Homo sapiens: one gene and its partners. The protein of the gene in region 2 purifies or fractionates together with the protein of the main gene of each other region. This does not show direct contact. Each region holds a gene or a part of one and is shown on either strand. Other genes may lie near its edges. The genes, in order: RNF10, DLGAP5, MACROH2A2, RSRC1 and CORO1C.

Region 1 (5,868 bases), on a different chromosome or scaffold from region 2:
TATTTCTTGGTAAGTACAATCACCAGCTTTTTATAGCAGGCTAAATAAATTCAAGGTTAAACAATGCCTCAGAAAGAAGAAAATGTAAGTTAATAAATCAGAGACCAAATTTTGAAAGCAACCACTTCACGCCCATAGTCTGTCAACCTCACTGTATAAATGAGATGTCATTCTCTCCAAACCTGACCACCTAAAACCTGGGAGTCAATCTAAACCATGTGAAATGGCAGCAATGTAAACAGAACAGTCACAGAAACAGGCTAGGTTCACTCCTACCAGTTACCCTTAAATCCTGCTTACGGACAGTGACCCTTACCTTAGTTACAATTTAAGGCCAGGCATGGTGGCTCCCTGTAATCCCAGCACTTTGGGAGGCCAAGGCAGGCAGATCACATGAGGCCAGAAGTTCGAGACCAGCCTGGCCAACATGGTGAAGCCCCATCTTTACTAGAAATACAAACATTAGCCAGGTGTGGTGCCACACGCCTGTAATCCCAGCTACTTGGGAGGCTAAGGCATGAGAATCATTTGAACCCGGGAGGCAGAGGTTGCAGTGAGCTGAAATCACGCCACTGCACTCCAGCCTGGGCAGCAGAGTGAGACTCTGTCTCAAAAAACAAATAAATAAAGTTAGAACTTAAAAACTAAACTTTTACCTATTACTTCAGTTAGCAACAGTTAGTGTCAAACATGGCACTAGTAGTAACAATTAGAAAGCAAAGTTTCAGCGCTGGACTTGGTGGCTCATGCCGGTTGTCTCAACACTTTGGGAAGCCAAAGCAAGAGGATCACTTGAGTCCACGAGTTTGCGACCAGCCTGGGCAACATAGCAAGACCCCATCTCTACAAAAAATTTAAAAATTAGCCCAATGTGGTGGCACACACCTGCAGTCCTAGCTGAGAGGCTGAGTTGGAAGGATTGCTTAAGCCAAGGTTGAGGCTGCGGTGTGCTATGATGGCACCACTGCTCTCCACCCTGGGCTACAGAGTGAGCCTCTGTCTCAAAAAAAGAAAAAGGCCAGGCACGGTGGCTCACGCCTGTAATCCCAGCACTTTGGGATGCTGAGGCGGGTGGATCACGAGGTCAGGAGATCAAGACCATCCTGGCTAACATGGTGAAACCCTGTCTCTACTAAAAATACAAAAAATTAACCAGGCGTGGTGGCGGGAGCCTGTAGTCCCAGCTACTCAGGAGGCTGAGGCAGGAGAACGGTGTGAACCTGGGAGGCGGGGCTTGCAGTGAGCCAAGATTGCACCACTGCACTCCAGCCTGGGAGACACAGTGAGACTCCATCTCAAAAAAAAAAAGAAAAAGATAAACCAGGCACAGTGGTTCAAGAGTTCAAGGATCTCTTAAGCCAAGGAGTTCAAGGTTTCAGTCAGTTATGTTTGCACCACTGCATGCCAGCCTAAGTGACAGAGCGAGAGCTTGTCTCTAAAAAAAAAAAAGCCAGGCACGATGGCTCATGCTTGTAATCCCAGCACTTTGGGAGGCCAAGGCAGGTGGATCACGAAGTCAGGAGATAGAGACCATCCTGGCTAACATGGTGAAACCCCATCTCTACTAAAAATACAAAAAATTAGCCAGGCTTGGTGGCGGGCGCCTGTAGTCCCAGCTGCTCGGGAGGCTGAGGCAGGAGAATGGCGTGAACCCGGGAGGCGGGGCTAGCAGTGAGCGGAGATCGTGCCACTGCATTCCAGTCTGGGCGACAGAGTGAGACTCCGTCTCAAAAAAAAAAAAAAAGGAAAACTCAGGGGATGCAGAACCCCAGCTAACTCAGCCACATTCTCTTGCTTTGCTTTCCTTAACTCCATTTCACATCACCTCAAGCAAAGGAGATTCTACGAGGATAGGTATATAAAGAAAACACATATCCTCCAACCTCATTATCCAAGACTGTTTCAGATGATCCTGGACCCTACCTGTTTGACCCTAACTGCTGCTTTCAAGATGCACCTCACGGTTTGCATAGATTTAGGTAAAGCCAGATTCTACATGGCAAGGGCTTATTAAGAAAGTAAAATGGCCAGACACGGTGGCTCATGCCTATAATCCCAATGCTTTGGGAGGCCGAGGCGGGCGGATCACCTGAGGTCGGGAGTTCGAGACCAGCCTGACCAACATGGAGAAACCCCGTCTCTACTAAAAATACAAAAAATTAGCTGGGCATGGTGGCGCATGCCTGTAATCCCAGCTACTCCGGGGGCTGAGGCAGGAGAATAGCTTGAACCCGGGAGGTGGAGGTTGCGGCAAGGCCGAGACTGCACCACTACACTCCAGCCTGGGCAACAAGAGCAAAACTCTGTCTCAAAAAAAAAAAAAAAAAGAAAGTAAACTGGCACTCAGCAAGAAGGCTGTCTTCATTTCTTCACTTATTACCACACTGGCAAGGAAACAGTTTCATAATGCTTACAGAAATGCTCACTGATAAGACAGTAAACTGCTCATTTCCAAAACACATAACAACTGACCACATCATGATTAGTGATTTTAGTTGCCAAAATCAACTCGTTTCTCGTCTTCCAGTTACCTAAGGGTATGAAGACAGATATGTCAAGTGAGAGACTGGCTCTTATCTCTAGACCCAGGCAAAAGGCAGCTAAAGGTTGAAGGTACCATCAGGCCTGGGACCCAGAGATAAAATTCAGAGTATTATTTTTGAAATGTTTTGTGGACAACTTGCCAGGATATACATGGGAAAAACTCGAGGGTAGAACAGGAGTGATAAGATGATCCACTTTAGATTTTGGAAAACAAAAAATATCAAGTTCCTGGGAGAAGGAACTATGGGTGAAGTTTTAAATCTCAGAGTGGTGGTTCTCAATCCTGGCTGCACACCAGAATCACTTGCACAGACTTTTTAAATTATGAATGCCCAGGACCCACGGGTTCAATCTAGGCTTAAAGAATCAGAAAAAGGCCAGGCACAGTGGCTTATGCCTGTAACCCCAGCACTTTGGGAGGCTAAGGTGGGAGGATCATTTGAAGCCAGGAATTTGAGACCAGCCTGGGCAACATGGTGAGACCCCCATCTCTACAAAAAAAAAAAAGATAATAAATTCCTAGGAAGGGGCCCCACACACCCCTATTTTTTTTTTTTTTAAGTTCCTCATGAGGTCAGGAGTTTGAGACCAGCCTGGCCAACATGGCGAAACCCATCTCTACTAAAAATACAAAAATTAGGCCGGTGTGGTGGTGGACACCTGCAATCCAGCTACTCAGGAGGCTGAGGCAGAAGAATTGCTTAAACCGGGAAGGCAGAGGTTAAAGTGAGCTGAGATCGCGCCACTGAACTCCAGCCTGGGTGACAGAGCAAGACTGTCTTGAGGGAAAAAAAAAAGTTCCTGAGGAGATTCTGATGCACAGCCACCACTGAGAACAACTGCCAAGAACTACTGTCAAGACACATTCCAAAATGGACAAGACCACTAAACTCAGGCTCCAGAGTCGACAAATAAATGACTTAAAAACTTAACCCAGCTTCTCAGTTGTTCCACATTTCCCTAATGGAAAGGTCTCCACCAAGTAGCAGTAGGTATATCTCAGCCTCCCCCCATTACCAAATTAAGGGCCACAAGTTTTTCACAGTTAAATTACTTGGCATCTTCATTTCTAGCTCTAGTTCTAACAGGTGGCTCGGCCTAGAGGTCAGAATACCAGTCAGCAAGTTTCTGCTGCTGATTCATGCTGTAATCACAAGCAAGTTGCTTACCCATCATCCAGAGTAGTTGACAAGCACCTCCAGAGGGGCAACATATGGCCTTACTACAGAATCAACTGACAACAAATTGAATCCAGCTGAAATTAGTAATTCTGAATGAAAGGAAGAGAGAGGTGGTATCAGGAATGATGCACATGCCAGTAAGTTATCTGCTTGCTAAGTGTGATTATACAAAGCTTATTGAAAAATACCGCCTAGGACTTCATAAAAATTTACTTGGACAAATCACTCTTAACACTGCTAAGCCTCTATTTTCTTTTCTGTGAAACAGGACTAATATTCTACCATACTTCCTCATAGAATCATGAGGATTAAGAAAGAAAACTTCTGTAAAATGCCTACCATAGTGGCTGACACACAGTTTTACTATGATTTGAAAGCCTATCATTAATAAATCCAAAGCGTTCCTGTCAAGAGCACCCACTAGACTTCCAATGAAGCCATATAAACCAAGGAATCCAGCCAACGGGCCCTGAAATTCTTTTAATTTCTCTAAGTGGTTTTACTGAAGGCTTCAAATCACCTCAATTTTCAAAGCCATTAAAATCTCCAGGTCCATTTACAGCTCAGAGGCATTCTTCAAGGCAGATTACCACTAGTAACCTGGTTTCTGGTACCAGAATAACAGGAAGAATGCCAGGGCAGTGCTTCATACCACCAACCTCAAAATAACTGCCTCATAATACCTGACCTTCCCTTAACCTCCCTGGCAGTTCTATCGGCCCAGGGGGATGGGACAAGAGCCTGGTTCCTGGCCAGAGTCCACTGCCTGCCCATAAACGGCCTACCTTCTCTCTTGCCTCTCTTTCTTTGCTCCCTCTAAATGACTTTCCCCACTTTCTAACCCACCTTCTCTCCTCTGAGCTATATTCACAGGATATTTACTGCTGCATGTTCTCAGAAATACCTATTAACACTACTGGAATGAAGCTGTAGGAATATAATCAAGAAAAGGAATGTTATATAAATGTTCAGGCAATTAGCCCAGGCAAAGAAACTGTGGTATGCGACTCTAGCCGGAAAGATCAAGAAAATCCTGGTAGCCAAATTTACATATTTCCTGTGTACAAATGAAGGGCAAATTTAAGCCAGCCACTGGAACAAAATCTCAAAGAAATTAATCATGTAGCTAGGAAGCAAATGGCCATTAATGACAGTTTACAGAATAGAAACCAAAGGGCTTTCTTCCACGAGGTAGAAAAGGGGGAGAAAAAAAGTGACTTAAATATTTGAATACTGAAAACTCTTGCTCTTTTCACCTTGACAAAAGATAAACTATCTTTTCACCTTACGCTTGTTTTCCCCTCAACTCAGTACTCTGTAATTCAAGAGGTCCTTTCAATGATTCCCAGCAGAATCAAGTATATGAAGTGTTCAGCTTATGAGATACTGCAGAAATCTTTTTATGGGATTATGCGGAGCTTGAGTGTACCCTTTTGTTAGAGCAACCATCTCATCGTGAAGTCACTGCATCAGAGCTCCTGAGTATCTGCTGTAGTAGCACTGGTCTTAGCTGTTACGTTCCTAAGGCAGCTTAGTTTCAACTTTAAAAATCAGCCAATATCCAGTTTCCTAACCTTTTAATCTCCACATATCCTGCCTTTTAATTTGTTCCTAAATGCAAGCAGTGGATTATGGCTAGTGAAGAAGCATGGATTTGGCTACAAAGCCCATCCTTCCTTGCTAAACGAACACGCACAGCAGAAGCCAGAAAAGCAGACACTGGCGGTGGCAAACATGGTCAAGCTTTCTAACACACACATTAAACAAAAAAAAAAGAATGCTGCCTCAAGGCACATATGTGTTATTTGTAAAATCTAACAAAGGGCCTTTACATGAGTTTTTGTTTTTTTAGACGGGCTGGAGTGCAATGGTGCAATCTTGGCTTACTGCAACCTCCGCCTCCCGGTTTCAAGGGATTCTCCTGCCTCAGCCCCCCGAGTAGCTGGGATTACAGGTGCGCACCACCACGCCGGACTAATTTTTTGTACTTTTAGTAGAGACGGGGCTTCACCATGTTGGCCAGGCTGGTCTCAAACTCCTGAACTCAGATGATCCACCTGCCTCGGCCTCCCAAAGTGCTGGGATTACAGGCGTGAGCCACCGCACCCGGCCTACATGAGTTTTTACAGAAGTTTTCTTGTTT
Region 2 (5,868 bases):
AAGTCTGTCTTATTTACAACCTGGAAGTAAAAATGGCATTATATTTAATTATCAATTTAATTACTTGGAACAAATTTTAAAAGTCTTGTTGCTATTAAATACAAGAAAAACAGAAGGATGACATCCCGGACACAGTCTTAAGAACATTATAAATCCTACTATCCTGCTTCTTCAACAATTAGTTCAGATAATATTATAGAAATAGTATGATTGAAGGCAAGTTTCTCAGCAAGTACCTATACTCTAGCTCAGGGACTGGCAAACATTTTCTGTAAAAGATCAAATAGTAAATATTTTAGGTTTGTGAGTCACAGGGTCTCTGTCATAAGTACTCAACTCTACCACTGTATTGCAAAAGCAGCCAGATAGAATACATAAACAAATGTGTGGCTATTACAATAAAATATGATTTGTAAAAATAGGGGCCAAAGTTTGCTGATTTCTGCTCTAGTTCACTGGTTCCATATTCATTCTGATATGAGTTGAAGAATACAAAATGACACTATGGTTTTAAACAACCCAAATGTCATTGAAACAAGAACTACAATTCTACATGACTGATTTAGATTTCCAACGGAAATTCTGGGGATGCTTTACAAAGTTACTTTCTATAATGATATAAACATATGACATACTGGGCTATCTAACCACACTGGAATTGTACTTACATGATTTTCTTCAATTAAATCTGGTAATCCAGGACACTGAGCATCTTCTATGCTGCTCCTAAAGAAGAAAAAAAGCAGCATTACACTCATAAACATATTGTTATTGTTTCACTTGTATTTTGAGTCTTTCCTTTAATGATGGCAATTAGTTTAGGGAATGGATCAAACATGGAGCCTGGTGCAAGATCAGGCGTGATCCAGATAGATTAGTTTTGGACTATAGCTACTGCAGGATGGCCTTACAAACTAAATGCATTCTTCCCCAGAAAGCTCACAAGTCTGTTACCATGGTGGTCAGTCAGGGTCAGGTGGCTCTACCAGCAATACTCTGAATCTCAGCCAAATCCAGAGCTATATATTAAAGAAAAGTCAAAAAGAAGGTGACTTCTGGAGACAGAAGCAACAATTCAATTATTGTCTAGCTGGAGTTAGCTACATTTACTCGTTACTTGTTAATCCAGGTACCTGCTAAGAAACTTGACTTCAATCATACTATTTCTATAATTTTATCCGAAAGTTCAAAAAGCGGAACAGGAGTTACAATGTTCTTAAGTCTGCTGCTTGTTAACAAGTAAATGTAGCTAACTCCAGCTAGACAATAATTGAGTTAGAATACAAGGTATTCTAATCCTGAAGTTACTAGCTTGTATCTTATTAGAAATATCTGTTTTGGCCAGGCGCCTTGGCTCACGCCTGTAATCCCAGCACTTGGGAGGCAGCGGCGGGTGGATCACGAGGTCAGGAGATTGAGACCATCCTGGCTAACATGGTGAAACCCCGTCTCTACTAAAAATACAAAAAATTAGCTGGGCGTGGTGACATGCGCCTGTAGTCCCAGCTACTTGGGAGGCTGAGGCAGGAGAATCACTTGAACCTGGGAGGCGGAGGTTGCAGTGAGCCGAGGTAGTGCCACTGCACTCCAGCCTCAGCAACAGAGCGACACTCCGTCTCAAAAAAAAAAAAAAAATTTATCTCCACTTCTTTCAAGTTACTTTTTAAAAAAGATATGCTCTATTTTTCTAGTGTCCAGCTTTACTTTGCCTTTATTACACAAAGTTGCTTATTTGTATGATGCCCTTTGAGGATGTTTTGGGGAATCCAAAACATTTTTAAAGAGTACTTATGACTCAAATGCAATTATGAATCTTCTTAGCAAACAATAGTAAACTACAAGATATACAAAGTAGGCCGGGCATGGTGGCTCACGCCTGTAATCCCAGCACTTTGGGAGGCCAAGGCTGGCAGATCATGAGGTCAAGAGATCAAGACCATCCTGGCCAACATAGTGAAACCCCGTCTCTACTAAAAATACAAAAATTAGCTGGGCGTGGTGGCGCGTGTCTGTAGTCCTAGCTACTCGGGAGGCTGAGGCAGAAGAATCGCTTGAACCCAGGAGGCAGAGGTTGCAGTAAGCCGAAATCGTACCACTGCACTCCAGCCTAGGCAACAGAGTGAGACTCCACCTCCAAAAAACAAACAAAAAAATCTAGAAGCATATCTAGCCCATAACAGTTGTTCAGTACACATTAACTCCCCCCCCTTCAATATGCTCTGCCATCTGTCAAGAAAACAATCTCAAGGTACTTTCTACAAAGCCTGGTAAAAAGTGTCCATCTCTCAACCACCTTGGGGAGGCATTAGCACTGCTGCTTTGTAGATGATGAAAGTGAAGCTAAAGAGAATTAATTACTTGCCCCAAAGTTGCATAGCTAGTAAGTCACAGAGCTCTTCTCAGCTCAGAACTGTTGAGCACCAAAGTTGTAGTATGTTTAGCACCAAAGGATACCATATTGCTTCTTTTCTTCTTACTGCTGCAGAATTTACCCAACTAAACGTGACCATTTAGTATCCTGAAACCTTAAGCTTTAGTTTCCTCATTTATAAAAAGGGAGTACTGCCTATATGTTGCAGGGTCATTATGAAATTTATTAAAAATATATGTCTGGCACCTTTTACCATCTTAACAATCTGAAATGGTATTTAGTATCAGCAACTGTTAAACTCTTATTAACATGTTAAAGAAATACCTGCTTTCAGGAATACTCAAAAACAAAGTCTTCTTCACATGTTCACTTTTCGTATTCTGAGGACCGGCATTTTCTGGTGATGTAGTTTGTTGTGGAATGCCCATCTCATTTCTACTCTGAGATACAGCTTTGTTGACAGACTTAGGTGTTCCAAGTCTTTGAGAAGGGCCTTCAGAAGAGACAGAAAGTCCTAGAAGATGAGAGAAATCACCTCAATACCAAATAGTTCTTTTGCTTTTCATTATAACTAGGAATACGGTGAAAATCCTATCAATTAGCCTCTTTCTCCTGTCAAATAATGTCTGTTAAAGACAAATGCCTGGGACTTTCTGTTAAAGATAGTATTTAAATGCATATTAGATGCTGCTTCCTTTTGACATCCCACTACTTTTACATGAACAGAGATAATTTTTTTGTTGTTGTTGAGACAGAGTCTTACACTGTCACCCAGGCTGGAGTGCAGTGGTGTGATCTCTCGGCTCACTGCAACCTCCGCCTCCCAGCTTCAAGTGATTCTCTTGCCTCAGCCTCCCCAGTAGCTGGGACTACAGATGCATGCCACCACGCCTGGCTAATTTTTGTATTTTTAGTAGAGATGAGGTTTCACCATGTTGGCCAGGCTGGTCTCGAACTCCTGACCTCAGGTGATCCACCTGCCTCAGATTCCCAAAGTGCTGGGATTAGAGGTGTGAGCCACTGCGCCAGGCCTGAACAGAGATAACCTTTTTTTTTGTTTTTGTTTTTTTAGAGATGGAGTTTCATTCTTGTTGCCCAGGCTGGAGTGTAATGGCATGATCTTGGCTCACTGCAACCTCCGCCTCCTGGGTTCAAGTGATTCTCCTGCCTCAGCCTCCCGAGTAGCTGGGATTACAGGCACCCGCCACCACGCCTGGCTAATTTTTTGTATTTTTAGTAGAGATGAGGTTTCACCATGTTGGCCAGGCTGGTCTCGAACTCCTGACCTCAGGTGATCCACCTGCCTCAGCCTCCCAAAGTACTGGGATTACAGGTGTGAGCCACCGTGCCTGGACACAGATAATCTTAAAAAGCAGAACTCTACAAGGACAAAGGAAACTAAAGAAGAGATAGCAACAATAACAATATTTTGGAAGCTATAATGTAGATTGTTGAGTGGGACTTAGCAGACTCAAGAAAACTAATTCTAAGCCACCAATCAAGAAAAATGAATTGGCCGGGCGCGGTGGCTCATGCCTGTGATCCCAGCACTTTGGGAGGCTGAGGCAGGTGGATCACGGGGCCAGAAGATCGAGACCATCCTGGCTAACATGGTAAAACCCCGTCTCTACTAAAAAAATACCAAAAAATCAGCCGGGTGTGGTGGCAGGCGCCTGTAGTCCCAGCTACTTGGGAGGCTGAGGTAGGAGAATGGCGTGAACCCAGGAGGCGGAGCTTGCAGTGTGCTGAGATCGTGCCACTGCACTCCAGCCTGGGCAATAGAGTGAGACTCTGCCTCAAAAAAAAAAAAGAAAGAAAAATGAGAATCAACCCAATTTCTACCACATAACCCCTCAAAAGAACTGGTGGCTCCAAGTATCTCTGCAAGTGGAGATGAAAATGGAGCTAAACACAGAAGGAATGGCTCAAAGTCAGTTTAAACAAGAAGAGCTCAGATTCCTTTCCTCATTCTGCACAGCAAAGCAACTGTCATCACCCACCCCCATCACCAAAAACAGAAGGGTCTCTGGTTTAGAGGATACCAGATACAGTTGAGAGACAGGGTACTACATGGAAAATAAGGGAAATAAGTGAATATTTACACAAAGTGTTGAGACACTTAGCTTTCTTCCCCTACATGGCTCCTGAAAGACTGGCAGCCAGAATGATACCTTCCAGGAAGCAGATGGAAAGCATCTTCTCTGGGGAATCTGAGTAGACTATGAGAAAAGTCTTAAATGCAGTGATGTGTAGGTTCCCAGCATAATGGCCCCGCTAACAGAAGGGCCCCGAAAGTAAAGGTCCTACCCATGTGCAGAGAGTTTCCAGTCAGCTTTTTAGTGCCCTATTCTTAACCATGTGCAGGCAGTGAGAGATCACCAGATTCCCGAGGAAAGCCTCTAAATACAAGAGACAGAAACCAAAAACAACTAGATGAAAGTACCCTGAAACAAATACTGTCTATAGTGGATGAAGAAAACATAAAAGCTATCATTAATATCCTTGGAAAGATAAAACAATACACTGATGAAACAAGTGCAGAATGTTATAAAATGAACATTTGGAGAGTAAGAAAGGGCTCTTGGGAATTAAAAACATGATAGCCAGCATGAAAGTTGAGGAAATCTCCAGGAAGTAGAAGAAAACAGTAAGTACAGGAAAGAAAGATTAAAAAGTCTACCAGAAGAAAAATGTGTTTTTGAAAAAGATCAAACCTTGTCAAGAGAGATGGTGGTAAACAACAAAACTCCAGTAAGACTCCAGTAAGTCCAAAAGACTCCAGTAAGAATTGAAAGTAGTTGCTTCTAGGGATTGGCAAATGGAATGAGAAGGGCTTCTTCAGGGACTACTGTTTTGTAATTAGCCTCATATCAACTATGTGCTCTGTAACTAAAACTCAATTTTAAATGACCAATTTTTGCCATAAACCTTAATCTCCCTATCTATAAGGACTGAGTTGAGTATATGAAAGAACAGAATGATGAGCTTATAGCTGTAAAAACCACGAAGATCCTTGACAAGTAGTAGAATGGAGTCATGTTATTAGCAGTAGTGGGAGATTCCTGGGTATCCAGGGAGTGTAGCTGCTTAAAGGAAACAAAAGTACACCAGATTTGATACCTAAACTAACAAGAATATTATAATATACTTGAGGATCACTATAAATATCAGATAGCAGGTATTAGAGAACAATTTAGGTTTACTTTGAAAAAACTTCCTGGTGGACATCTATGGCTTATAAATAAATAATTTCAATTGAGATAAATTCAATTCAAGAAAAATAGTCTGTGGAAAAAAAAGCTATGACAAACACTGTGAGAAAATCACAAAAAAATGATTTCCTGAATATTAAAAACTGCTTTTACTGGAATATTTTTAAATTGGAAAATTAGTACGTTTACTACCTTTCAAAAAGATCTGAGCAAAAGTTTTAATACAAATGCAAATAAAACCAAATCCACTTTGCATAAACTTCCTTTTATTTTTTAGAGATGGAG
Region 3 (5,868 bases), on a different chromosome or scaffold from region 2:
TTTTGGAGGAGAGTGTGAAGGGCAGAGGGCTCCCTGCGCCGGCAGGACCTGCCCGGCCACCCTCCACTCCCCTGCCATCACCCCTCCTCTCTCCTTTTAAAAAGCAAAACCCCACTCTTGGGACTCGGGTCGTCCTCCGATCCCTGCTGGAAAGTGCGGCGGCTACTTGGCGTCGAGCTTGGCCATCTCCTGCACGTAGATGCCGATGCTCTCGCTGTCGAAGAGCAGGAAGTACACGTTCTTCAGCGAGGACGCGCTCGAGTCATCAAAGTGGGCTGAGATGGCTTTGAGGGTCACCTGGGCCGCAGTCTGTTTGGGAAAGCAGTTTCTGTGCCAAAGCAAAAGAAGAGCCGATGTCATTTTGGTCCCTGGGACCCATGGGAGCATGAAGTGCCTTTGTTTTTACTGGGTGGGGCCTTGCTGTGTGCAGGGCTAGTCCATGCATGATCTCCTTTGACCCTAGCCAAAGGGACAGCCTGGGGGTGGCAGGTGGGGCATGTTGCCCCCACTTTATAGGTGTCACACTGACTCGGAGAGGCACAATGATTTAATTTGATTAAATTAATTTATTTGTTTTGGGATGGAGTCTCTCTCTGTTGCCCAGGCTGGAGTGCAGTGGCGCGATCTCAGCTCACTGCAACCTCCACCTCCCGGGTTCAAGCGATTCTCCTGCCTCAGCATCCCAAGCAGCTGGGACTACAAGTGCGCACCATCATGCCTGGCTAATTTTTGTATTTTTAGTAGAGACGGGGTTTCACCATGTTGGCTAGGCTGGTCTTGAACTCCTGACCTCAGGTGATCCGCCTGCCTCGGCCTCCCAAAGTGCTGGGATTACAGGTGTGAGCCACCGTGCCCTGCCAAGCACAATGATTTTAGTCAAGGTCACAGGGCTGGCCAAGTGAAGAGTGCCCTGTATTTTATTTTTTATTATACTTTTTTTAAATTAGTTTTTTTTTCAGAGGCAAAGTCTTGCTCCATCACTCAGGCTAGAGTGCAGTGGTGTGATCATAGCTCACTGCAGCTTCAAACCTCTGGGCTCAAGCTATCTGTCTTCTGCCTCAGCCTCCTCAGTAGCTGGGACTAAAGGCGTGTGCCTATAAAAAAATTTTTTTTTTTAAATTTTTTGTAGAGATGGGTCTTGTTATGTTGCCCAGGCTGGTCTCGAACTCCTGGCCTCAAATGATCCTCCTGCCTCAGCCTCCTAAAGCTTTTGGATTTACAGGCGTGAGCCACCGTGCCAGCTCCCTATATTTGATTCTATGTCACCTGACCAAGTCAAGCTTGGCTTTAAAAATGCTAGCCATTCAGCATTAAAAATACCTGGTCTTCAAACAAGCAAACAGAAGTTTTATTAGCTCCCTCCAAACTGGTTTATATACTAACCCAATTGCTTAGTAAAGGGCAAAAATGTATGCTCCAAACCTGTCTTCGTAAGTCCTTTTTTATGCACTTAATATTTCATAGGCACAGGCCCATGTAATTTCAGCATTGTGACTCCGGGCATGGCGGGGTTAATGAAAGTTTGTTAAAGGCCCCAGGTTCCAGGGAGCTACTGATAGTGCCATCCACCAGGCTGGGCCACAGCACCAGCTTCCAGGGACACAGCCAGAATGGTCGTTAGGGGTCAGCCACAGAGACCCCTGGAGCAGGTCCAGGAGGGGCCTGTTAATAGGAATTCTTCCCAATCGCATGTATTCCAGCACAGAACAGCACTGCCGTGGTTCCACCGACGAAAGAATGCATCTCACAGCATCTCTGGGCCTGGAATGCTGAGACTCAATGCTGCTTGCCTAGGTTGATGTGTGATTACAGCAGGAACCTAGGTCTCATTATTTTCCTCTTGGGCTTCCCAGGACACAGCTATAAACCATAGCTATATTATAAAGGACAGCTCTCAAGGTGAGAGGGTGTTCAAAATTAAAGCAATAGATTGGCTAGGGGCATGAAGGGAAAGGATATGTTTTATGTGACAGCAGATATCCTCATTATGTATCTGAAACAATGCCCAGCTGGGATCTGTGACAATCCAGTCATTGCCCAGTCTCCTTTTCAGCAATCACTCGGGGACAGATTTTCACTTCTCTGGGTGTATTCATCAAAGCCTCGAACTCCTGGCTCTGCAGTCTCCCAGAGCAGCAACGGAATTCTCTGGGGATTCTGGAGCCAGAGGTCGGAGATGGGGGGCCTGAGATTCTGCATTCTGACATCGGTCACTGCTGCCTATGGACCACACTTTGAGTAGCAAGGCCTTCGAGCCTGGCGTTTTCTGATCATGTGTCCTGGACATGGACAGCTGGTGGGAATATGGACTTTGAACCTGGAAGGCTCTCAAAAAATAACACACCAGCTGGCCTCTGCCTCCCGCTCCTCCCCTGGGCTAGCCTTCCTCCTGGGGCTTTAACATCAAGGAGGCACTGGGGCTGGCCCCAGCCGGGGAAGACCTGCTGCCTAGGAGCCAGTGGGCTCGCTTCCCCATGGTTTCTGAAGGATGAAAACCGGGTTTCCTGCCCTGTCATCTGGTCAGCATACTTGGCTGTGCTGGCAGCCCTTGGCAACACCCAGATCAGATGTAAGTGGGGGAGCAGCTGATTTCCAGGGAAAAAGCCGGAGGAATCAACTCAGGGGAACTGCATCTTACCTGCCGCTGGGGAAAGGCGGGAACGCGACGGACTTTAGCTTCTTGTCCTCCGCCGCTGACAGGCAGTTTTTGATGGTCTCTTCAAGCTGTTCTTCACATTTGTCGGAGCCCCACTGAGGGATGTGACAGTGGATGACAAATTTGGCTGCGAGTCCACTGGATTGGCTGACGGCGGCTGGGACATAGGAGAGAAAATGCCGCGGGTTATTTCCTAAGGTTTCCTAGGTTATAGCCTAACCTCATCAGGTACCTGTTAGATCTGGAGATAAGGCAGTGATAGAGACGTTGGCTGGGCAGCATCCTGTGCTCCTGATGTGGACTATGTTTAACGAGAGCAAGAGCTGGGCTGTATTGCTTTGCACAGTTAGCACAAGCTTTGGGTAGAAGCGTTTAATGCTGCTCTGATGCGCCATTTTCATATGGTCTGCCAAGTAGTCCCTGGGTTGGGCTACCTCCTCACAATGGTTCCTAGTTAAAGGGACACATCAGATCCTCTCTGGTGGCTGTGGCAGGTAAAGTAATGGCATCCCAAAACATCCACGTCCTCCTCCCTGAAACCTGTGGGTGTTCCCGTACATGGCAAAAAGGACTTTGCAGATGTGATTAAGTGAAGGCTCTTGAGATGGGGAGATGATCCTGGACTGTCTGGGTGAGCCTGGGACCTGATAAGAGGGAGGCAAGAAGGTCAAAGGCAGGAGAAGGCCGTGGGATGAAGGAGACAGAGATTGGAACGATGCAGCCAGGAGCCAAGGAATGTTGCAGCTTAGAAGCTGGAAAAGGCAAGGAAGGGATCCTTCCCTGAGCCTCCAGAAGGAACCAGCCCTGCCAACACCTGGATCTTAGACTCTTAAAACTCATTGTGGACTTCTGGCCTCCAGAACTGTAAGAAGACAAATTTGTGTTGTCTGAAGCCACGAACTTTGTGGTAATTTGTTACAGTAGCCACAGGAAATGAATACAGTGGCTTTTATTTTTATTTTTTTATTTTTAGTTTTTTTTTGAGACAGAGTCTTTTTCTGTCGCCCAGGCTGGAGTGCAGTGGTGCGATCTCAGCTCGCTGCAACCTCCACCTCCTGGGTTCAAGTGATTCTAGTGCCTCAGCCTCTCGAGTAGCTGGGATTACAGGCATGTGCTAATTTTTAAAATTTTTTTATAGAGATGAGGTTTTGCTATGTTGCCCAGACTGGTCTTGAACTCCAGGGCTCAAGTGATCCTCTTGCCTCAGGCACCCAAAGTGCTGGGATTACAGGCGTGAGCCATCACACCTGGCCTACTGTGGCTTTTAAAAAATAGCTGTGCCTGGGCCCCACAGAGTCAGGGTACTGACCACCCAGAGGTCCTGACTCAGTAGGTCTGGTGCAGGGGCTTATGCTTATGTGATTTTAGGACCTTCTATGAGTTGAGAACCACTGAACTTGATTGTGTAGTTCCTTGACAGGGACTGCCATTTGATGATCTCCACATGCCCTGCAGAGAGTGGGGTTTCAAAAGCGGGCTGTGAAACTGAATTAGGCCAGCCTTGTCTCACAATTTCTGTCATACTCCTTTGTTTTACTGTTTACTCCCCTAAATGTGGTTCCCATTGGTGACAGAGTTGATAAAGCCCCGTGGCTGCTAAGCTCGAGGGAAGTCCCTGTGGGACTCCCCAGGGGAGCAGTTCCCTCGGATCTGCCTGAGGCAGCTGCAGCTTCAGCCATGAGCCATGCTTGCCCCCACGCTGCCCGTCTGCGCCCTGTGCCCCTCCAGGAACCCAGGAATCGGCGTAGCAAGGGTCCGTGGCCACTAGGGGCAGCACTTGTAACAGAAACGTGTGTCCGCCGTATTCCAGAGCTGTGTGTGGGGTTGAGGTGAAAGACTGACTGGAAATCTATGATGCCCACCTAGTTTATATAAGTATTTCCTGGCAATGTCCACAGTGTCAGGGAAGTGCTGACTGCACTTCCTCACATGGGTAGAAGCCAAATCCAAGGGACCCCTTCGTCCATCAGGGGAGGCTGTAGGCTCCCTGCCTTCCAGTGCCTAGACGGGGCTCAGTGTCATCACACGTGAACGCCTGAGTGCAGGACCCAGGCCACACAATACACCGAGGCCCTGGGTAGGGGCCCGCCATGCGTGCTGACTCTACGACCACGTATATTTGTGCACCAGAAGCAGAGTGTCCCTCTTTGGACTGAACAATGATGCCCCTAAAACTGGAGGCTGCTCTGCTGAGAACCAAGGACCCTGGAGATGGGCCTTGCCTGCATGGTGCCATCTTCCCGAGCACCTGGCTGCTATTGTATGCCGGACAGAGTTTGGCTTGTTACAGTCATGGCTGATTTATTTCATATATTTTAAAAGTATAATCATGTTACTAGCAGAATGGTATTCCTCTAATGTAAAGTCTTTTTTTTTTTTTTTTTTTTGAGACAGGATGCCCCTCTGTTGCCCAGGCTGGAGTGCAGTGGCTCGATCACAGCTCACTGCAACCTCTGCCTCTCGGGTTCAAGCGATTCGATTCTCCTGCCTCAGCTTCCCAAGTGGCTGGGATTACAGGCACCCGCCACCATGCCCGGCTAATTTTTTGTATTTTTAGTAGAGATGGGGTTTCACCATGTTGGCCAGGTTGGTCTTGAACTCCTGACCTCAAGTGATCCACCCACCTCGGCCTCCCAAAGTGCTAGGATTATACTGCACCCAGCCAAAAGTCATTTTTAAATAAAAGGAATATGTTCCTATTGGCAATGTCAAACATCCAATCAAGTAAAAAATGACTTTCAGGGTAGTGCACGATGACATTTCAGTCCAAAACAAAGTATGTTCATGGCAACTGGAAATGAATAACACAGCTTGTAGCCATAATGCTTTGTAATGTTCTCCAGAGTTGTCAAGGATGAGGGTCAAGTTATTGCAAGGGCTGTGACCCTGGTATTTGGTATAAGCACCTATCCACATAATGACTAGGGGCATTCTCTTACCTAATGTGATGTTGCCTGGTGAAGACCTGCATTCTGAGGGTGGCAGTGCTGCTGCTGGGAGCTTCTAGAACCTTCCCCCAGGTGAGCCATCACAGTTCTTGGGAGTCACCACAGCAAAAGGGGACTCTAGGTTGGCCCCTTGTCCTGCTGAGAGGCTGCTACTGCTGATGCCTGGTTTCCGTGACACTGTGGGTTTTCTTTTAACAGCACCTCAGTTTCCCACAATGGCCTCTCTTCTTCCTGCGTGTCTGGGCCCAGTGCTCTTCTCTCTGC
Region 4 (5,439 bases), on a different chromosome or scaffold from region 2:
GGGTATTTCATGAGAGGTACTCTGTCCTAGGTTAAAACTGCAGTAGTTCCCAGCCTTCTAGAATAGCTATCAGGAAGATATAAGTGGGTGACTGAGAGTTCCTATGGCTCCAGCTTTCTTGTCCTTCAAGACTCAGTTTGATTGATTTCTTCCATGAAGACTTCCTTAATTTTCTAACTTACAGTAATTTCTCTCTTCTTTGCAACCAAGTCCTCTCCTCTGCCACTAAGTACTATATCTCTGACATCATTTACATGTCTGGGCTTCACAACTAAGCCTCTTGAGGGCAGGATCTCTACTGGATTCAGGTATGCATCCCCCAAGCACATCTTACTGTGCCCAGCATGAACTAGGTACTCAAAATGATATTCATGAATAAATGGGTAAATCTGACTGTAAAGAAGAACTGAGATTTCTCAAATAAGTAGATGGTAGGTCACTAATTGCAGAGTAAGTAAGGTTTCTTACGACCTTGGCAGGGAAGAAGAGCAGGGAAGGCTGAGGAAATCGCTGGAACGGCAACTATTGACCATGGCAGCTCAAGCACACACATAAACACATTCAAGTTGGAGTGTAGCAACTATTTGTTCCACATTTCACTAAGATGTCTATCATGTCAAATGTTCCCTTGGCATAAATAGCAGAAGTTTCTATGAAGGGCTTTCTTTTATGTCATTTTACTGAAAAATCAAAGTAGGCAGGTCTGCAATTAGTATCCTCATTTCACATGTTAGGATGCTGAAGCAAAGGAGGTGAATGATTCAAAGTATTCTGTGCTCATATCTTTAGCTCTTTGACTCCTCATAACTAGAGAGTGCCAGGAAAAATGCTCTTATTTCATTTTCCTTGAGAATATACTTACTTGTCAGAAATGAAAACTCAACCTGTATTATCAGTACCCATCATTTTGTAAGAAATCAATGTTTCGTAAAACACTTAAGGTCTCATGTATGTCCAAATTATTATCATTAATCAAGTGACATGAAAGGAATTATTCTGTTTTATAGACTCACCATATAAGGATATTAAAGAAGGCTAGCTTGAATTAGGCAATATGTTTGATCATGTTCTATGCAGTCCTTTTTATTAAATTTGATTTGGCTTGTGTGGTAATATTGTGGTCTTTGATAGGAATGCAGGTAAACGAAGTTAATAATATATAAAAATGAATCATGTTGAAAACTAGGGAGGAAGGAAGTAGTTACCGAATTCCTGTAGGGACCATAGTTTAGTTCATTAAAAAAATTTGATTTTCGGCCAGGCATGGTGGCTCATGCCTGTAATCCCAGCACTTTGGGAGGCCGAGGTGGGTGGATCATGAGGTCAAGAGATCGAGACCATCCGGGCTAACACGGTGAAACCCCGTCTCTACTAAAAATACACACACAAAAAATTAGCTGGGCATGGTGGCAGGCGCCTGTAGTCCCAGCTACTCAGGAGGCTGAGGCAGGAGAATGGCATGAACCTGGGAGGCGGAGCTTGCAGTGAGCCGAGATCGCACCAATGCACTCCAGCCTGGATGACAGAGTAAGACTCTGTCTCAAACCACCGCCCTCCCCCCCAAAAAAAACCCCAAAAAACAATTCTGTCACAGTTCAAGCTTCTGTATTTGGGGTACTTGCCACAGAGGAACACTGGTATTAAATATAATTGAAGTAGACCAGATTTTCACTGTTTTATAGATAAGGAAGATCAGGGATATTGAGAAAACTGCCTAGCCCAGGTCCTCTGGAGAATCATTAGTGGCCCAAATGATAACCCATATTCTTGCCCAGACCACTAACATATACTTTCCAATAGGGTGATAGTACTTCTATAGTTTATAAGTTATACAAAGTATGAAATAAAAATATTTCATAAACTGTAACCCCTTTTTAAGTCACTAAAATTGTATACATCTATGTTAAAAACCACACAAATCTCGGTTCATTTGGGGCACTTTTATTTACAGCCAAGGAAAAAAGAAAACTAGCATCTATTTAGAATGGGAAAGCATGTTTGTATGAAAACAAATATTTCATCATCACTTATTTTCTATACTGTTTGCAACTAAGTTTTACATTTTTCATTTTCAACAGAGATTTGAATTTTAATGTCCCAGAAATATAAAGAAGATGGCATTAAAATGTCCTATATGTTGGCAGTCCTACCCTGAAGACTTTTTTTGCTTATCTTTTGTTCTGAGCTACAGTCTTCGCAGAGACTAAATTAGTGACTGGACAACAGAAGAAAATAGACCATCCTGGCTAAAATGGTGAAACCCCATCTCTACTAAAAACACAAAAAATTAGCTGGGCATGTTAGCGGGTGCCTGTAGTCCCAGCTACTCGGGAGGCTGAGGCAAGAAAATGGCGTGAACCTGGGAGGCGGAGCTTGCAGTGAGCTGAGATCGCGCCACTGCACTCCAGCATGGGGGATAGAGCGAGACTCCGTCTCAAAAAAAAAAAAAAAAAAAAAAAAAAGAAAATAGAAACGGGAAATATTCATGTCAGCTGTTAAAAACCAGTTTTGTAAAGCAAGGCCTAAAAGTCCTATCTCTGGCATGTTTAGTATGGAACGTATAGTTGATTGTCATTCAGCTACTAGAGAAAGGTATTCTACAATGGCAGATAGCCTTATCAAAACAATTAGCCGGCTTTCTCCACAGGGAATAGCAGTGGGGTAAGTAAGACTGAAGTGAGAGCTCTTATCAGTTTTCTCAGAAATGATTTCTCCATCATAGGTATTTGGCCAACTGGTTAGGTCTAGCATGAACATGTGATTTCTAAAACAATGAGCTGAGATCTGCTAACATGTTGTAAAGGAGCATCTAGTAGAAGCTGATCTCTAAGCAAAATCACCAATTTATTTAAGTTTCAAAAATTTTTTTTCCATAAATATGTTCTTTAACATGCACATTCTGCTTACATTGTTTAGGGTGCTTTTTATTGTGCCTAAAAATTTGCAATATGGTGAAATAAAATATTTAAAAATGGTTGAATACCATACGGAAGATGAAATCTCATATTTATAGCATGTAATTCAATTCTCATGTATGCATAATTAATCAAAATTGTGTCTTTAAATGACATCTTGACATTTTTTGAATTGCACTAAGAAACACTAGTGTCTACCATTCATTTTAACAGACTTATTTATGTTTAGCTTTATTAACAGTATAACATTTTCATGCAATCTTAAATTTTGTTTTAATTTTTACAATGTTTGATTTAATTCAAATTAACAAATATTCAAGCCTACATGAGAGACAAATGAAATGAGACTACCTTTATATATAATCAGCAAAATTCTTTTTAAGAGTAAAAAGTTAATATTGGGATTTAAAAACCTAAATTTCCAATGTTACTGCTGACAATCCAATCCAACTATATGTATATTACTTAGGCCACAGGACTGCCCATTAGTCTTTCTTGTCGGAGAGCAATTAATCTCTTGAACCATTTTTCCTCAGCATCAGCTTTCTCGATAAATAACTGAAATAAGAAAAGAAAAAGAAAAAATGTTACTGTCTCCCAATAACTTGAATTTGACCTAAAATGACAGAACTCACCTTTGTAGAATATATCTCTCAACACAAGATTTGGATACTGTTTAACTCTTGATGACCTCTTAATTGATGACTATCTATTTGGAATTAGTAATGCTCAGAAATTCTTGGAGTAAAAGAACTACTAGTATCAACATCATTGCTTAACAATTTTGTACCTTATATTTGTGAAGTTTATTTCCTATAACTTTTCCAAAACAGCAGAATTACAACATTTCATGGAAGACAGCAAAGTATGATGTTAGTGATGTGCTCACTGATAATGAACAAAGTAGAGCTCAGAAATGGAACTTTTAGTGCTAGATTTTTAAACAAACACTTCTCATGGTGCTGATCAATTCAGCTAAAAAAAAAAAAAAGGAAAAAATGCTTCTCTTTGTCTATTTTTCTTAACCATAGACAGAATACTTCTACAGGTTAGGCAACATGAGTTGGACCCTACTGTATTCAAATATAGATAACAGTTCTAAAGGCCTGGGGGCCAGATGCCTATTTTTAGCAAGGGAATATGAACCTGTTTCCTCCAATGGTCTCCTTGGTGTTAGCACAAAAGGATAACAGATTGAAATAATTTCAGTAAATTAGACTTCAACTGACATTCGTAAAGTTTAAGGATATTACATTTGGATGGGCCAGGGAATTGTCATCTTGGTACTTGATAGCAGTAGGGATGCTGGTAGGATCTATTTCTTTTTCAGTACTGGGTGGATCAGCAACTGCTGATGCTGGTCCTGATGTTGAAGTTGCTTGTTTCACTTCACTAGGTTCCACTGACTGAAAGAAACAACACATATTAATTTCAACACAATACACAATTAGAGTTTTACTTCAAAAATATTTCTGATTTTGAATAACAACTGTTCAATTAGTCTCCTTTGAGATGATACCCATCTCCAAAAAGGCCCTACTTTTTGTATTTGTTTGTTTTAGAAATACAGTTATTTTATTTTTATATTTGTTTGTTTAGGAATAACTATATTTAGGAATATAGTTATAGATATATAGAAATAGAATATAGGAATAACTATATTGTATTTGTTTTAGGAATAACAAATAGAAAAATGCTGAGAAAATGTCAATCATTTCTTATGATAAGCACATTTTTCTTAAGAAATTGGTACTTACGTGCCTATACTATTGAAATATACATATATTTCATATATCTAAATTCTATTAATCAAAACAAGCTTACAACAAATATCCAACATTTAGTTGGCCAATTTAGGTATGAAAAGTAAATTCAAAGGTTATCTTTAGAAAAATAGCCTTATTGAGTTATAGAATTCATATACCATACAATTTACCCTTTTAAAGTACATAATTCAATGGCTTTTCACATATCCATGGAGTTGTGCAATTATTACCAGAATCAACTTTAGAACATTTTCATCATCCCCCACAAAACCTCATACCATTAGCAATCATTCCCCATTCCTTCCAACCTTTCCATCCTAGGTAACAATTAATCTTCTTTCTCTATGGATTTGCCTATTCTAGACATTTCAGATAAAAGGAATCATACAATATGTGGTCTTTCATGACTGGTTCTTTCATTTAGCATAATTTTTTCTTTTGAGACAGAGTCTTACTCTGTCACCCAGGTGGGAGTGCAGTGGCACAATCTTGGCTCACTGCAACCTCTACCTCCTAGGTTCAAGTGATTCTCCTGCTTCAGCCTCCCGAGTATCTGGGATTACAGGTGCACACCACCATGCACACTCGGCTAATTTTTGTATTTTCAGTAGAGACGGTGTCTTGCCATGTTGGCCAGGGTGATCTCGAACTCCTGTCCTCAAGTGATCAGCCCGCCTTGGCCTCCCAAAGTGCTAGGATTACAGGCGTGAGCCACCGTGCCCAGCCACATAATGTTTTTAAGGTTCATCCATGTTGCA
Region 5 (5,868 bases), on a different chromosome or scaffold from region 2:
CAAAACCCCAAAATTTGCTTTACAAATAAAGCATGTTTCAATAAAGGAATGTGTATGTATATCTGTGTGTGTAAATTTACACATATAAACATCTTGCTAACATATTTATTTACAATAAAAATTACGAAGTTAGTTTATAATAACATAATAAGAATTTTTTTTTTTTATTTGAGATGGAGTCTCTCTTTGTTGCCCAGGCTGGAGTGCAGTGGTGCGATCTCAGTTCACTGCAAGCTCTGTCTCCGAGTTCATGCCATTTTCCTGCCCTCAGCCTCCTGAGTAGCTGGGACTACAGGCGCCCGCCACCACGCCCGGCTAATTTTTTGTATTTTTAGTAGAGATGGGGTTTCACCATGTTAGCCAGGATGGTCTCGACATCCTGACCTCGTGATCCACCCGCCTCAGCCTCCTAAAGTGCTGGGATTACAGGCATGAGCCACCGCACCCGGCAAATATTTACAATTAGTAGTCCTAGGCCATAGAAAACATCTTTATTCCTTTCATCTTCTAGGAAAATGGAAAGACTGACAATATCACAAGTGTATCATGCAAAGTTGAAATTCAATTACTCAATTAACATTTATTGAACAGCTACTATGCACCAGGCAATATGCTAGGAAATGGAGGCACCAAAAAATGTAAGATATCCTCTACCTTTAAGGAACATGGAATATAGCAGTATTATAAGGTGTTCACTTTCACAAACTGTAAAATAATTCTGTACTCAATCTCTAGTCATTTAATCCCAGATGTAATTAGTATTAGCATAGAAATCACTAACACTAGTGACACCCACAAATTACACTTTCACCTACCTTTATAACTCCATAACCAAACTATATTTACATTTTACTCTAACATATTGTATAAATGCATAACCTATTATCATCACTTTCCATAATCAGGGCCATCTCATCTACCCATCTTACACTACTCTTCCCTAATTACACCAGTTCTGAGTCAGCCCAGTACTATTAGGCACACCCTCAGGCAGGATCTCACTCCCAGTGTCCCACAAACACTGACTCTCCAACGCCTGTCTCCTGAATTCCCACAGAGCTCACAGTCTATACTGCAGAATTCACCATCAAAGAGTCATGTGCTTGAGGGCTGGAGGAGGCTTGTAATGTATTTTTTAAACTTTTACATAATTTAAAAGTAAATCAAAACATTAAGCTTGCCATAAGACTTTGTGAATACGAATTTTTTAAATGATACCAGAAAAATCAAGTCCCTAATATATTTTGCATCATAAAATGTTTGAATGAAAAGAGTTCTTTGAAACCAGTAGTTCAAACCCTTCACAGAGGCACTAACAGAATGGAGAGGTCAATAATTTCCCACTGTTTGATGAAAAAAGTGACTTTTTGATAAGTTTATAAAAGAATAGAAAAATAGACAGGACGAGTGCCCAGCTCTGGCCATTATAAGATGCCCCAATTTACAATCACTACCATGCCCTGATCAACTTTCCAAAGGTCACAGAAACCAAGCCACTTCGCCAAAACCTAAGACCCTTTCAAGCTGTGAAGTTCCCAAATGGAAAAGAAAAAAAAAAGATCAGAAAGTATTTTGAAAAAAATTTAGCAGAGTCACTGTTTTGGAGTGACAGGAAGAACCTTTCTAAAGCAGGCATGGTTTCTTCCTGATTCCAGGTATCAGGACTAGCCTCCTTACGTGGGGTCTGCCTGACTTCACATGCCTCTGCTCAACTTTCCCCTTGAAACCTTGCTGTAATGACTGAATGCAAACATTTCAAAGAGACAATCTGTTTATCAGTAAGGAACCTCCTCTTTAAAAATATTAACATTGTACACCTCTAAAAGGGTTAAAGAACATGAGTGAAATGACATGAATAAAGCCTGTAGTCATCCCAACCCTGAATAACAGCGGTAGTCTAGCAGGGAAATGAATTTGAACCATGTGCTTTGCTACCATGATTTAAAGAAAGTGAGCTTAACCAGGGAAGTAGAAGCTTCAAATTAAGAGAGAGATGAAGGAGGATGAAGAACAAGGAGGGCCAGCACAGACCTGGAGGGCTGCAGTGGCATGAGACCCCTGGACGCCACACAGCCTGCACAGGGAGGCTCCTGGGGCATGGGGCATGAGTCCTTACTTCTCTTTCACATGACTACCAGCTCCCAAGATCCAGAATTCCACTATCACCATAAACAATTTCAAAAACTGCTGTGAATTAAACAGATTCCTTCAGTCTAGGCTGGGAACGTACCCACCACTTACAATGCTGAATCAACACAATAGATAGAAATTACTACTAGTAGATCTGAGTTCCAAATAACTGAGTTAGACTCTGGAACACAACCCAGTCTTGAGTTGGGGACCAAATGTACACACTGCCTGCCTCCAAAACAGAAATTTCATCTGGGCTCTTGCTCATTCACTTTCAGAGAAACACACAGTTCATAACCATCCTTTGAAGGTATGATATGTTATTTGTTCTACTTGATAAAAGTAATTCAGTCCACTGCACTCAAGACACTGTCATAATGCATAAAAAGATCAAACTAGCAGTCTTAGGGAGAAAAAAGAAGACTTCCAACTTATCTTTTCCTACAGTAGCACTGTAAAGCAACAGTGGCCCACAGAAGAGAGAGCCTAAAGGACAGTTACTCTATTTCTAAAACAGACAACGTGCATCTTATTAAATATCACCCCCAAAGAACTGTGGCCAGCCCTCATTGGCTCCAGCCTCTCTCTTGCTTGCCAAGAAAAACTAGGATGACATTGTTAAGCTAAAGATACTACTAACCACAAAATTAATTCACCATCTAGCTTCCAAAGTGACTAGTTTCCTAATAAATCCCTCTGCTTAACAGAGATGACAGCGCACTTTCACGTGTGTTCCTCAGTCCCCACTCCAGCCACATTTGAGTTTTTATGTTAATAAATCAGTCAATTCTTTAAGTTCCTAAGAATGAAAGGAATTAGAATCTTTAACTAGGAAAGAATGCTTGACCATTACGAAAAGGAATTTAAGTATCTTTCCTGTGAAGTAAGCAAATAATGGTGATTAAACATTTGTCATAAGGAAGGGATGCTTGTGAATTTTGTCATGCACCCCTATGATATCAAAAGTAGAAAATACAGCCTGACGGCTTCACTCTCCTAACACTTCCTTTCCCATGTGTGTCTACTATGGTCTCTCATGAAAAATCTACAGCTTTGTTCATCCAGAATGAAGGCCTCAGCAGTTGTTGAGACATGGGGACCCACACCCAGTTCCACAATGGAGCAAGAAAGTCTCTTACACCAAACCACCATGTGACCAGACTTGCAGTCTGTCTTGGTTTCCCAAAGACAGAACAACCACATTGTGAAACAATAATCAACCTTTGCTAATCCTAAGTGGTTTTCATTATGTCTGTTACAATCTATATATTAATAGTTCAGTACTGGGCCTGTGTTGTTCCTGTCTAAACTTGGTGTTTTCAAATACAGACGGCCTACTAATGCCAATTTTTCTGGCAAGATGCAATGCAAGGGCACCTTTGCAATAATAATCGGTCTTCCAAATACAAGACAAATCTTTAAAACCACTGCTTACTAGTGCTCAGATTATAAGACTGAGGAAATTTAAAAGGATCAATAAAATACTGTCAAGGAGCTTTACATTAAAAATAGAAATCAAGTTTACCAAAGGTTTATCCAAGAGATATCATGTATTTTCAAGTTTCCTAAAAATGCATCTAAAAATCCTCCTAAAAACCTGGACCAAACTTCACAGTTTAATACATGCACAACCTGAATATGTGGGAAAAAGCAACAACAACAACAACATAGGTACATGCTACCAACTGTGGTGATTAACTGAAGAAAACTCCGTGAATAGGCTTGGTTTGCAGATCTGGCAAAAGAGCATGACGAAAGGCTAAGCAAATGGAACTGCTGCACTGGGTCAAAGACTACAAAGGGAAAGCCATGTCAGGTTCACATTGTTAAATAAAAAATCCACACTATACTATAAATTCACACAACTAACTATAAAAATTAATTCATACCACACAAAGGAAGGGGCAGTTAAGTTCCTGATCTTGGGTAAATCTGTCAAGCTCCTGCCACCAAAGTCTCCTCATCTGTAAAATGAGGAATAGACCAGCCCACAGTGCTTCCTGTTCTGGCTGTGATTCAGAGTCACCAGGGAACTCACACCCAGGCAGCTGGATTCATATAGGTCCACAGATGATCATCACAAGGCAGTCAAGAATGAGGACCTCTGTACCTGAGCAATAATCTCCCAAATCTCCCAAAATAATATATCCTTTAAAAGATGGTGAGATACTGGTGCCAAATATAATCCATTATTCATAAATTTTTAAGAAGAAATGTAGATCATTGCCTGACCAAAGGGGAAAAAATATAACTGCCTTCCACATACAATGTATAGGCCTTCCTACTCCCATTTATAGTCTCTCTCACTCTGACCTTTGCATTATATTAATTACTCATTACTGCAGCAAACGGGAGGAACTGTATTTTTGTTATTAATGTAAGATCCAAATGACAGGCCTAATTTAACATACCATAAAACTATAGAGGCTCTTTTCCCACACAGGATGTTACACTTTATCACACTGTAACCAGAAGAGTTATCTCAAGCACTGCAGTGCAATCTCCTTCAAATCCTAAAAAAATCCATCTTTTGCCAGGAACTTTCCTTAAAATGGACAGACAGACACACAGACAGAGAGACTGAATACACAGACCTGAATAGAGAAGACTGTCTGAATAGACATTTCCAATTCAGACAGATGCAAAAACACTGGAGGTGTTTTTAAGACCGCCTTCCCATCCTAAAATTAGACATTTTTTGCCCTCTTCAGTGACTCAACTTTGATTCAAAGTCTAAAATCCTCAGGTGGGAGTAGGAATCCATACCCTTAATAGCTTAATGTCAGATGTAAAATGTATTAAACTTACTCTATTTGCTTCTCTGCAGTTCCATTCATTAACAGACATTTAAGAGAGAAGAGAGGGAACAGGAATGTATTCAGTACCTACTCTGTATTAGGCACTTCATATAATTTTCCTTGCTTAATCTTGCCAATGACCCTGCAAGGTAAGCCTTTTGCATCTCCACACTACAGAGGAGGAAAGTGAAGCTCAGGGAGGTGAGGGAGCTGGCAAAGTCACAGCTAGCAAGAAGCGGAGCCAAGAGTGAAGCCCAGCTCTATCTGGCCCTAAAGGCCTGCACCCTCACGGCCTCAGTTCCCCTAAATACAAAACTCTCTTAGAACGAGAACTACAGAAGGTACCCATAGCTCACTGTCCCTAACTAGACAAAAAAGTTGACATTTTTCTTTCTCTTCTGTACTACCTTGCCACAATCCAAGCTTTAACGAACACACAAAGAAAAGGTATCCCGAAATGGCCAACTGGTTTCTCCTAATTCTCAGAAAGGTGCTAAGTGAATTTATTTATTTATTTATTTATTTTTTTGAGACGGATTCTTTCTCTGCCGCCCAGGCTGGAGTGCAACTCTGTCGCCCAGGCTGGAGTGTGATGGCGCAGTCTAGGCTCCCTGCAGCCTCTGCCTCCCAGGTTTCAAGCAATTCCCCTGCTTCAGCCTCCTGAGTAGCTGGGACTACAGGCGCGTGCCACCACACCCGGCTAATTTTTGTATTTTTAGCAGAGACAGGTTGGCCGTGTTGGCCAGGCTGGTCTCAAACCCCTGACCTCGTGATCTGCCCGCCTCAGCTTCCCAAAGTGCTGGGATTACAGGTGTGAGCCACCACGCCCGGCATGAAATATTTTTAATTAAAGTATTTTAAAAATAAACATAATCTGGGAGGCCGAGGCGGGCGGATTATGAGGTCAGGAGATCGAGATCATCCTGGCTAACACAGTGAA

What was found.
Region 1: the proteins of DLGAP5 (region 2) and RNF10 purify together in Homo sapiens (co-immunoprecipitation; one large-scale study listed by IntAct). This does not show direct contact.
Region 3: the proteins of DLGAP5 (region 2) and MACROH2A2 purify together in Homo sapiens (co-immunoprecipitation; one large-scale study listed by IntAct). This does not show direct contact.
Region 4: the proteins of DLGAP5 (region 2) and RSRC1 purify together in Homo sapiens (affinity purification with mass spectrometry, with the first as the bait; one large-scale study listed by BioGRID). This does not show direct contact.
Region 5: the proteins of DLGAP5 (region 2) and CORO1C purify together in Homo sapiens (affinity purification with mass spectrometry; one large-scale study listed by BioGRID and IntAct). This does not show direct contact.

The regions. Positions count from the first base shown.
Region 1 is NC_000012.12:120,537,314-120,543,181, reverse strand, and holds part of RNF10 (E3 ubiquitin-protein ligase RNF10), read right to left. Parts: intron 1-5,868. UniProt on the Homo sapiens protein: E3 ubiquitin-protein ligase that catalyzes monoubiquitination of 40S ribosomal proteins RPS2/us5 and RPS3/us3 in response to ribosome stalling.
Region 2 is NC_000014.9:55,151,922-55,157,789, forward strand, and holds part of DLGAP5 (disks large-associated protein 5), read right to left. Parts: intron 2,886-5,868; coding exon 2,696-2,885; intron 727-2,695; coding exon 669-726; intron 21-668; coding exon 1-20. UniProt on the Homo sapiens protein: Potential cell cycle regulator that may play a role in carcinogenesis of cancer cells. Mitotic phosphoprotein regulated by the ubiquitin-proteasome pathway.
Region 3 is NC_000010.11:70,105,978-70,111,845, reverse strand, and holds part of MACROH2A2 (core histone macro-H2A.2), read right to left. Parts: intron 2,814-5,868; coding exon 2,639-2,813; intron 329-2,638; coding exon 163-328; 3' UTR 1-162. UniProt on the Homo sapiens protein: Variant histone H2A which replaces conventional H2A in a subset of nucleosomes where it represses transcription. Nucleosomes wrap and compact DNA into chromatin, limiting DNA accessibility to the cellular machineries which require DNA as a template.
Region 4 is NC_000003.12:158,542,217-158,547,655, reverse strand, and holds the end of RSRC1 (serine/Arginine-related protein 53), read right to left. Parts: intron 4,322-5,439; coding exon 4,169-4,321; intron 3,474-4,168; coding exon 3,381-3,473; 3' UTR 1,926-3,380; downstream 1-1,925. UniProt on the Homo sapiens protein: Has a role in alternative splicing and transcription regulation. Involved in both constitutive and alternative pre-mRNA splicing. May have a role in the recognition of the 3' splice site during the second step of splicing.
Region 5 is NC_000012.12:108,720,372-108,726,239, forward strand, and holds part of CORO1C (coronin-1C), read right to left. Parts: intron 1-5,868. UniProt on the Homo sapiens protein: Plays a role in directed cell migration by regulating the activation and subcellular location of RAC1. Increases the presence of activated RAC1 at the leading edge of migrating cells.